Homo sapiens: one gene and its partners. The protein of the gene in region 3 purifies or fractionates together with the protein of the main gene of each other region. This does not show direct contact. Each region holds a gene or a part of one and is shown on either strand. Other genes may lie near its edges.

What was found. Proteins that work in one complex are often made in the same cells at the same time.
Region 1: the proteins of BACE1 (region 3) and SORT1 purify together in Homo sapiens (affinity purification with western blotting; one study listed by BioGRID). This does not show direct contact.
Region 2: the proteins of BACE1 (region 3) and USP10 purify together in Homo sapiens (affinity purification with western blotting; one study listed by BioGRID). This does not show direct contact.

Annotation. Positions count from the first base shown.
Region 1 is NC_000001.11:109,324,919-109,328,418, forward strand, and holds part of SORT1 (sortilin isoform 1 preproprotein), read right to left. Parts: intron 2,684-3,500; coding exon 2,581-2,683; intron 2,243-2,580; coding exon 2,074-2,242; intron 172-2,073; coding exon 1-171.
Region 2 is NC_000016.10:84,759,000-84,762,499, reverse strand, and holds part of USP10 (ubiquitin carboxyl-terminal hydrolase 10), read right to left. Parts: intron 3,138-3,500; coding exon 3,028-3,137; intron 2,610-3,027; coding exon 2,554-2,609; intron 2,329-2,553; coding exon 2,225-2,328; intron 1-2,224. UniProt on the Homo sapiens protein: Hydrolase that can remove conjugated ubiquitin from target proteins such as p53/TP53, RPS2/us5, RPS3/us3, RPS10/eS10, BECN1, SNX3 and CFTR.
Region 3 is NC_000011.10:117,295,757-117,299,256, forward strand, and holds part of BACE1 (beta-secretase 1 isoform A preproprotein), read right to left. Parts: intron 1,206-3,500; coding exon 1,117-1,205; intron 1-1,116. UniProt on the Homo sapiens protein: Responsible for the proteolytic processing of the amyloid precursor protein (APP).

The DNA of each region.
Region 1 (3,500 bases), on a different chromosome or scaffold from region 3:
TTAAAATCAATGGTGTAGGAGACCCACTGGCTGGTCAGGAAAGATTCTGTGAAGCCCCAAATGCTGATATTCATGGACCTAGCTCCAGGTTCTGAAGCTAGGCCAGTGAAATAGATGGGGTCCCTGGTGAACGTGTAGGTTTGCCAGCATTGACCTTCGTCTGTGGAGAACCTGAAACCACAATTACAGAAAGATCATGACAGAGGATCAATGTGTACTGGGAATTCAGAAAACCACTCTGGCTTTTTGATCCCAAACCAGACAAAACCCCTTACATTTAGGTGGTGGCTTATTGGCTGACAATTATTTTAACTTTTTTTTTTTTTTTTTTTTTTTCTGAGATGGAGTCTCACTCTGTCACCGGGCTGGAGTGCAGTGGCGCGATCTCGACTCACTGCAACCTCTGCCTCCTGGGTTCAAGTGATTCTCTCTCATGCCTCAGCCTCCTGAGTAGCTGGGATTACAGGAACGTGCCACCACACCAGCTAATTTTTGTATTTTTAGTAGAAATGGAGTTTCACATGTTGGGCAGGCTGGTCTTGAACTCCTGACCTCAGGTAATCTTCCCACCTTGGCCTCCCAAAGTGCTGGGATTATAGGCGTGAGCCACCGCACCCAGCCAACTATTTTAACTTTTAACGTCTGTAGTTAACAGGATAAGGAAGAGATTTGTTCAGAGAGAATATGAAAGTAAATACCTTTACAGAAATTATTTCAAAGGAAAGACAGGAGAGTGACCCAGGTAAGAACTGGCTTTTAAATTAATAAATTTAAGGCTGGCTGTGGTGGCTCACGCCTGTAATCCCAGAATTTTGGGAGGCTGAGGCAGGTGAATCACCTGAGGTTAGGAGTTCGAGACCAGCCTGACCAACACAACAAAACCCCGTCTCTACCAAAACACAAAAAACAAAGCAAAACAAAAAACCACAAAAATTAGCTGGGTGTGGTGGTGCATGCCTGTAATCTCAGCTGCTCAGGTGACTGAGACGCAAGAATCATTTGAACCTGGGAGGCAGAGGTTGCAGTGAGCCAAGATTGCACCATTGCACTCCAGCCTGGGTGACAAGAGCAAAACTCCATCTCAATAAATAAATAAATAAATAACAATCAAATTATTTTATAAGAACTTATACTTCTTTTTTTTTTTTTTTTGAGACGGGATCTCACTCTGTCACCCAGGCTGGAGTGCAGTGGTACGATCTCAGCTCACTGTGGCCTTGACCTCCTCAGGTGATCCTCCCACCTCGGCCTCCCAAGTAGCTGGAACCAAAGGCGTGCACCACCACGCCCAGCTAATTTTTCTTTTTTTTTTTTTGTGGAGACAGGGTTTTGTCACATTGCCCAGGCTGGTCTTGAACTCTTGGGCTCAAGCAATCCACCCACCTTGGCCTCTCAAAGTGCTGGGATTACAGGTGTGTGCCTCTGCACCCAGCTCAGAACTTGTACTTAAGAAGTCATTTTCAATCTAGAGTGCTTGAACGCTTCCATAATAATTTTGTAGACAGAAAGAATATATATATATATATATATATATATATATATATATACATACACACACACACACACATATATATACACACATATATACACACATACACATATATATACACATATATATACATATATATACACATATATATACACACACACACATACATATATACACACACACATATATATATATATGGTTTTTTTTTTGATTGAAATAATATTAGAGACAAGGGACAAGGTCTCCCTATGTTGCCCAGGCTGGTCTTGAACTCCTGGCCTCAAGCGATCCTCCTGCTTTGGCCTCCCAAAATGCTGGGATTACAGGCATGAGCCACTGCGCCCAACCCAGAAAGAATGTTTTTAAGAAGTGACAAATATGTTAGCTAAAGGCAGTCAGAAGAAAAAACAATGCCATTTAATCTGAGTTGCCAATTAAAAGCAATCCTTTCTAGAATCTTATCTATAGTTCTGTCAAATGCAAAAATTTGAATTATAGTCTGTAACATCCCCCCAATAAACTGAAGAACATTCCCCCAGTTGCCCTCTATGCAGACAGTGTGTGTGAGATGAGTTCATGCATACTTAATCACATTGATAGGACGGCTGCTGTGCTCAATGGCCACAATGATGCCTCCAGAATCCAGGATGGTGTAATAGTGGGGTCCTTCCAGCATCTTTGTCCAGGAGTAACCCCCATCATCTGAGATGTACACATCTGGAACCATCACTGAGATGGCATCCCCCACGCTACCTGCAATATAATCCACCATCTCATTAGCACAAATAGGCAATGAAACAGAGAGCATTTACTCCAGAGAGAATAATGTTGAATGAATTTATTCTGATTATTTCCCATCAAGCCTCTTTTAGTAGGAAAGAAAACCACCAAAAACTTCGGAGAAGTTGTGTTGCTCTCTCTGATAAAAGTTGATGAAAAACCCAAAGTGTTGTTATAATGTAAGAAATTCTACCAAAGGAATGTAAAAGCATCCACATTGTTTCTTCTCAGAGCGTTCAAAGCCTGTTGGCTGAGTTTCAGTGTGCTCAGCCACTGTTCCAGTTGGAGGTGGTGAGTGGGAGGTTCCTTACCATGAGCAATGACAATGCCTACGGCATTCGGCTCTGAGAGTGGGGCCATTGGAACATTCAGTTTCTGGGAGATGCTGTAGGAAGCATGAATATGAAGGCTGCACTGTGAAAAGAAACAAAAGCGTAGATTAGAACCAAAGATAAAGATACAATTTCTTTAATCATTTCACAAAACCCTTCCAATAAAGCTTTAAGTTAACCCAGACCTAGGTAAAAGTACTATCTTAACTATTTATTTACTATTTAGGTGTATAGTTCAGTAGTGTTAAGTATATTCACATTGTTGTACAACCACATCTCTAAACTTTTTCATCTTATAAAATACAATCACCAATTAAGCAACTGTTACCTACTTCTTCCTCCTCCCAGCTCCTGGAAACTACCATTTTACTTTGTGTTTTCTATGATTTTTACCATATTACTTTGTGTTGGCTACTCTAGGTAGCTCATATAAGTAGAATCACATAATATTTGTCATTTTGTGTCTGACTTATTTCACTTGGCATAATGTCCTCAAGGCTCATCCATGTTGTATTAATAGCATATGTCAGAATTTCCTCCCTTTTAAAGGCTAAATATTATTTAAGTGTGTGTGTGTATCTGTATCCACACACACCCCACACTTTATTTACTCATTTATCTGTCAATAGACACAAGTTGCTTCTACCTTTTGGCTATCATGAATAATGTTGCTATGTACATGGTTGTACAAATATCTTTTTGAGAACCTGCTTTCAACTCTTTTGGATGTATAATCCAGAAGTGGAATTGCTGGATATGATAATCCTATTTTTAATTTTTTTTAGGAACTACTATGCTGTTTTCTGTAGCAGCTGCACCATTTTACATTTTCACCAAAAGTGCACCAGGGCTCCAATTTCTCCATATCCTTGCCAACACTTTTTAAAATAGTAGCCACC
Region 2 (3,500 bases), on a different chromosome or scaffold from region 3:
AGGCTGGTCTCAAACTCCTGACCTCAGGTGACCTGCCTGCCTTGGCTTCCCAAAGTGCTGGGATTACAGGCATGAGCCACCACACCTGGCCACATTACCTTTATCACAAAAAAGTTATTTAAAAAAAAGTTTCTGTCTTGGGTAAACAAAATAGAAGACGAAGAACTAGATGTCTAGGGCCAGTTCACTGTTCAACTGCAAGGGTCACCACTCGAGCAATGAGCTAAGCAGCCCTATGTCTGCTTCTGTCTGTCTTTGATGATGGACAACTACATGGGAAAGAACTCAAACTACATGTGGAAAAACTCCACTGATTTAGAGCGTTAGCTGTGTTACACATACATCAGCAAAATCATTCACAGACGAGTCACCCAAGAGTTTAATAATCCCACATCACGAGTGTTTGATTCTGTTACTTATCATCAGTTCATATTTCATTCTTCACAGCACAACTGCCTATTCCAAGGCCCTGCAAATTGTTCTGTTTGAAGCATCTAGGTAAACTGCAAAGTTTACTTGCCCTCTCCAGATAGTAGACGTGGACAGCAGCTGTTCACGTGAGTGCATGCTCTGCACGTGTGCAGAAAAGGGCAAAAACTGGCACAGCCAAAGTGTGCTGAAGACTTTTCATAGCAGGCCTGGGTGGCTCTCCTTGGAAAGGCCTGCTTGCAAGGTTGCCCCTTGGCTGGTGTCTGGGAATTTGGATTTCAGAAAGGTTCCCATCGGTCCAATAACTGATACGGGATTCTGCCTAAACCGTTTGCGCAAGCAATGTGCTTTCTGCTGAACACTTTGCTTTTGTTTTGGGAGTTTGGACTTTTGGTTCAAGCCAGGCAGATGGTACCTATGGGACCAGCCCTCAGTAAAAACTCTGGACACGGAGTCTGTAATGACCTTCCCTGGTTGGCAGCATTTCACGTGTGGTCACAGTCTGGTGCTGGAGTAGTTACGCGTAGCCTTGTGGCCCCACTGGGAGAGGAGTCTGGAAGTTTCCTTTAGGCCCTGCCTCACCTGTCCTTTCCCTTCCTGACTCTGCTCCGCATGCTTTTGCTGTCAGCAACCATAGCCACGGGTATACCAGCTTCTGCATTTTCTGAGTTCTTCCAGTGAATCACCCAACCTCAGGGTGGTCTTGGGGAGCCCAACACATCCCCTATTAATGTAACCTTTAGAAGATGCTTTTGTTCATAGCATTATCTCTGTGCACGATCCAAGAGGGGTTCCTGAGCACCCACTTTATTTTGCCTCCACCTGTGCTAGGTGGGCCCCTCTGGGTTCTAAGGCATCTCTGTATCTTTGTGCTTCTCTTGTTGACTATTCATTAACTCATTCCCTCACTGAGGGCAGAGGGCGCACTTCATTCCATTTCTGCATCCCTAACACCATGTTCCCATTACTTGGGAAGTGCAAATTCCAAGCCAATACCAAAAGCTGCATTATAAGCATTTAAAAAGCTTAAGACCCTATGCTACCCCTGGTGGTATCCTGCAACGATGCCCTCGACATTCACTCTTCTTCAAAGCAATGAAGCTTCAAGTAAACTTGACTTAAATGGCATTTTCTCAACTATTTTTCTCTCTGAATACATTTCCCTAAGCATCATTTCAACTGCTTGTACTGATTCATCACAAACTCAATCTGGGAGGAAAGAAATGCTCCAGTTAACGGTGCTAAGGGCGGCCCAAGTCACTCTCAACAGCCCCAGGGCCTTTTATAAGGGCTCCCTGGCCCCTTGGTCTCATGCCTTTAGTAACAAAGTATGTGATTAAAAAAAAATTAGGTAAAGGAATCAAGTACATCAAATAGCTACTAAAGCCTGTAAGTATGATGAAGACATAAGCTCTTCTGAATACTGCCATCATTCCAGGCCCAGTGCACTCCATTCTACCCCAGTGGCATATAGTGCAGTGGTTAAGAGAACTGACTTGAAAGCTGGGTTCTGCCATGTACATTAGCTACCTGACCTCAGACAGTGGCTTCACTTCTCTTAACCGTAACAAGGAGACCATAATCATACTTTATTCAGAGTCAACTAAGTTAATATATGTAAAGTACTGAGAGCAGTGCTTGGTGCACCATATCATCCAAGCAATGGACTCTTATAAACCTACATCTACTTATAGCGCTGGAGACAGAGGGCAAATATCAATAAGCAACAGTTACCACACAAACACTGGAACAAAAGGCAACACTTGATACTAGTGACAACAGAGAAGTCTCAAACCTTTTCAGACAGGCTTGACTTGTTAACTGTCAGGAGTCTGTAAATATATGTGGGCTCAAAGGCAGCTCCAGGGCGAATATCCCTCACGATTTTATCTCCAAGAGCTGCAATGGAAAGAGGACACAGGTTTTCCTAACTACAATGAACTCATAAATGATGAAAAAAGCAACATCATCAAAACTCCCCCACCTCCCACCTGGCTGAATGTTGAGAATGGCATAGGTGTAAAGACACTATCTTCCCAACAAGACTGAATTTACCAAATTTAAGTCATCTGTCTCCATAACTCCCAATATGTAATAGCATCAACAAAACTCATTTTTACTAACCTTGTCGGGGTTTTGGAGGTACTGGCATATTAGTGAACTCATTCATTAGCCGAACACTAAACATGGGGAAAAAATGTTAAATAGTGCAGTTTTAAACAATATATACTTTTACTAAAGAGCTTTGATGGCTAAGTAGAATATCAGCTATACGAGTATAGTAGATTTTAGGTAACCAATGCTGTAACAGCTAGTGAACTCAAGTCTCTTCTATATGCATTTTTGGTCTATTTCAAGTGATATATGCTGGTAAACGCTAAAATATTTTCTACTGAATCTAAAGAACACAGATCATCAATGCTCCAATTCCATTTCTGGTTAACTTCCATATAAAATCGCCAACAGTCTATTTTTAAAAAAAGACAGAATTATAGGACTCATTTGCAGGAAATCAAGAGCTTTACTAAACTATTTCAATTCTAATTATCAGACGGGAAAAACCCCACCACTTAACACATCTTTCACCACCTTACTTACAAGCTGTCTATCATGGGTGTTGACGTACAAGGCCTTTGCACTTTGGAATACAGAGGAATGAACTTCATCAGGTGGTACATCGGCGGGCAAGCAACCAATGCCTGCAGTGTCTATGTAGTGGCAGTAAGGAAGCGTAAAGGAAATGAACAGACACACCACATTTCCTGAAGGCACATGAAGCACAAGAATGTTTATAAAAACACAAGGAAGCTAAGGACGTTGAACTACTTAGATATGTCACCACGAAAAGGAATAAACCAAATAGTTACTAGGGTAAGTGTCCTGTGATGTCCATATAAGGATCTACGAAGCAGTCAGTCGTTTGTATTCAAGAACTTGACCTAACCAAGACAGTTCAATCAGTTAAAACCAAATTTCCAGTTGTAAGTGGTTGCTCTGCCCTATTATTTGTGACTATTCTAATGAGAGCCAGCTTGTCTGCAGCCCTCATTCACGTGCCAACATATCCTCTC
Region 3 (3,500 bases):
CATCCGAGTGGTAGAGAAAGTGCCAGGCAGGGTGAATGTGGAACCTCTACAGCAAGTTCTAGAGAAGGGGTTTGTTCAAGCATCTCAGAAAAGCAGGTTGGTATTACACACCACTTCTGTGAAACGTGCTCAACATGTGGCAGCCCCACCTGTGTTTAATCACACCACTAACCAGGGCTTCTGTGTGTGGTGGGGGCAGTGATGGAACTGGAACGAGGAACTGGAGTGAATGCCCTTTCATCGATCCTACCTGCACCCTCCTCCCTGACTGCTTCTTTTAGATTGGGACATTAGAGGAAACAGGGAAGGTGCGTTTTGCAGCTGCCTACAAGTCCAAGGATAGGATTTAAGCCTCTACTCACGTTTGCACACACTGATGTCTCAGATATTGGTGTCCTCTCATCCCTTCTTCTTCCTGCTTTTATGCTAAGGGGGCTTCCAGATTACCCCTCACTGCCTCTTATCTTAAAGCCCACTTCAACCCCCCTTTCACCAGTCCCCCACTTTCACCAGTCCTCTTCAACCCCCCTTTCACCAGTAAGCTGAATCCAACTGGTGGCACCCTGGGTGGTGCATGGAGGAGATATTTCAGCTTTCAGTTCTGATACTGGTCTAGGCAGAGGGGTTTATGAAAGACCCTTTCCTTCATGTCCTTGGACTATGCAAAGCCACCTAGAGTGGCCCCTGGGTAAGAACACAGCAAGGGGAGCCGTCACTGAGGCCTGTTCAGCTTAGACTTAGCTGGTGTTAGAGAACTGAGAGACACCGAGGGGATGTGGGGTTTTCGTCTCCCCATTCAGGCAGAGAAAATGGGCCCCCTAAGATTGTTCTGTGAGCTATGGGCTCTTCTTCCTTTCCCTCCCACAGGAGGCTGCCCTGTCTCAGCACTGAAGCACTTCCTGGCTACCTCTCAATTCACCCTTTCCCATGGTATAGCTCCTCTCACCACCCACTTCACCCTGTCTCTCCTGGTCACTGTCTTTTTTTCGCCCTTCCCCTTCCCTGGCAAGAAGAAAATCTGAGGATCAACTCTTTCTCTCTGTACCCCTCCCCTGACCCTTCTTAGCCCTGGATCCTTGGAAAAGGTACTTCCCCCGGGCTCTCCCCAGGACTCACAGCTGCCTCTGGTAGTAGCGATGCAGGAAGGGGTGGGGGGCAGCACCCACTGCAAAGTTACTGCTGCCTGTATCCACCAGGATGTTGAGCTGTCAGAGAAAGGGGAGAGAAAAGACAGTATAGACAGGAGGCTTCGGTCACACCACCTTTATTATCCCTCACGCCCCAGCCACAGTCTGCCCCTTAGAATGTCCAGAGTGAAGCTCCACGATGCAGGACTGGTCCAGGCTGGCACCCGTTACCACCACGACCACAGACAGGACCTGGGGTCCTGTGGTGCTGCAGGGGCCAAAGGAACACTTCCCCTGTGCCCTCTGCAGGTCTGCTGAAAAACCAACTGAAAAAAGGCAGATTAGTAGAAGAACTAATATGCAAGGGAGTCAAAAAAATATAGGAAGTCAAAGAGATAGCCAGATGGTTGATGATTTTATACCATCTTGAGGTTACAGAAAGAATGGGAGCTTGGGCAAGGTGCAGTGGCTTACCCCTGTAATCCCAGCACTATGGGAGGCTGAGGCAGGTGGATCACCTGAGGTGAGGAGTTTGAGACCAGCCTGGCCAACAGGACGAAACTCTGTCTCTACTAAAAATACAAAAATTAGCTGGACATGGTGGCACATGCCTGTAGTCCCAGCTACTCAGGAGGCTGAGGCATGAGACTCACTTGACCCTGGGAGGTGGAGGTTGCAGTGAACTGAGACCATGCCACTGCACTCCAGCCTGGGCGACAGAGACCCTGTCTCAACAACAAAAAAAAAAGGGACTTGGACTTTGGCAAAAATAGTTATGGGAGGGATAAACGGAGGCCAGGCCAGTAAAAGTGGTCTTTTTATATGAATGAAACCTCATAGGTAACACCCCTCAGAGAAAACAGGTGATGTATGTGTCTTTCAGACCTTTAAACATGTCAGACTTTCAGTTAATCTTTCCTAGATTTGGACCAGGGAGGGCCTCAGAGAAAGCCAGGTTGCATCAATGCAGATTCTCTGCAGATGCAAATCTCCCTCAAAAGCCAGATTTGCAGGGCCACTTCTGTGTGCTGGCCCTCTGACAGCCGACTCAAAATACGTCAAAGTAGTATATTCTGGGGTAAAATATCTTGGTTTCCTTTGGCACCCTCAACATGGCCTTAGAAATGCTGTGTCTGAGGCCAGCACAGTGGCTCACAACTGTAATCCCAACACTTTGAGAGGCTAAGGCGGGTGGATCACTTGAGGTCAGGAGTTCAAGACCAGCCTGGTGAATGTAGTAAAATCCCATCTCTACTAAAAATACAAAGATTAGCCGGGTGTGGTGACGCACGCCTATAATCCCAGCTACTTGGGAGGCTGAGGCAGGAGAATCACTTGAACCCAGGAGGCGGAGGTTGCAGTGAGCCGAAATTACACCACTGCACTCCGGCCTGGACGAGAGCAACACTCCGTCTCAAAAAAAAAAAGAAAAGAAAAGAAACGCTGTGTCTGCTTCAGTCTATGGAGTCATAACATTTTGTGCGTCATCTCAGAGCTATGTGGTGTGTGTGCTGTCTCTGTTCCCATGTCTCTCTACCGTCACATCACCCCTGCTCACTGTGTACCTGACTGATTCTGTCTTCAGGGCCCCCTGCTCCTTTTCAATTCTCCCAGGAAGCAGTCTGGCTTATCCCCTCCAGCTCAGAGAAGACCTATTCTAGGAGCTGTACTGGTCAGGGGACCTGTGGGGACCAGGATGGCACATCAGTGTCCATGCGTGTGGTTCTGTCCCTGCCACCAGAATGTGGCTCCCCTTCTGTCTCACAGGTGACACAGACCTAGGAATCCTACTGTCAGAAATAGTGGGGAGCCAGGAGCCCCATAAAATGTCCTGGTGAAAACCCATCTTGTCAGGGCCCTGGATTTGGCTAAGTGAAGATGGACAGGTGTCTTGGTGTTCCCTTCTGTCCAGCTCTTTCTAGCATCACTTCTTTTTTTTGAGATGGAGTTTCGCTCTTGTTACCCAGGCTGGAGTGCAATGGCGCGATCTCGGCTCACTGCCATCTCCGCCTCCTGGGTTCAAGTGATTCTCCTGTCTCAGTCTCCTGAGTAGCTGGGATTACAAGTGTGCGCTACCACGCAGGGCTAATTTTTGTATTTTTAGTAGAGACGAGGTTTCACCACGTTGGCCAGGCTGGTCTCGAACTCCTGACCTCAGGTGATCCACCTGCCTCGGCCTCCCAAAGTGCTGAGGCGTGAGCTACCATGCCCGGCCTCTAGCATCACTTCTCCTTGGCCCTTTCTTCCTCCTTTGATGGCCTGACCCCACCTTCAGTCAGACCAGAGCCATTTTTTGAAAGTCTACTATATCCTCACAGGCAAAAAAAGGAAAGGCCCCACCCTCAGAAAAATGGTAATTTGTAAGTTGCATCT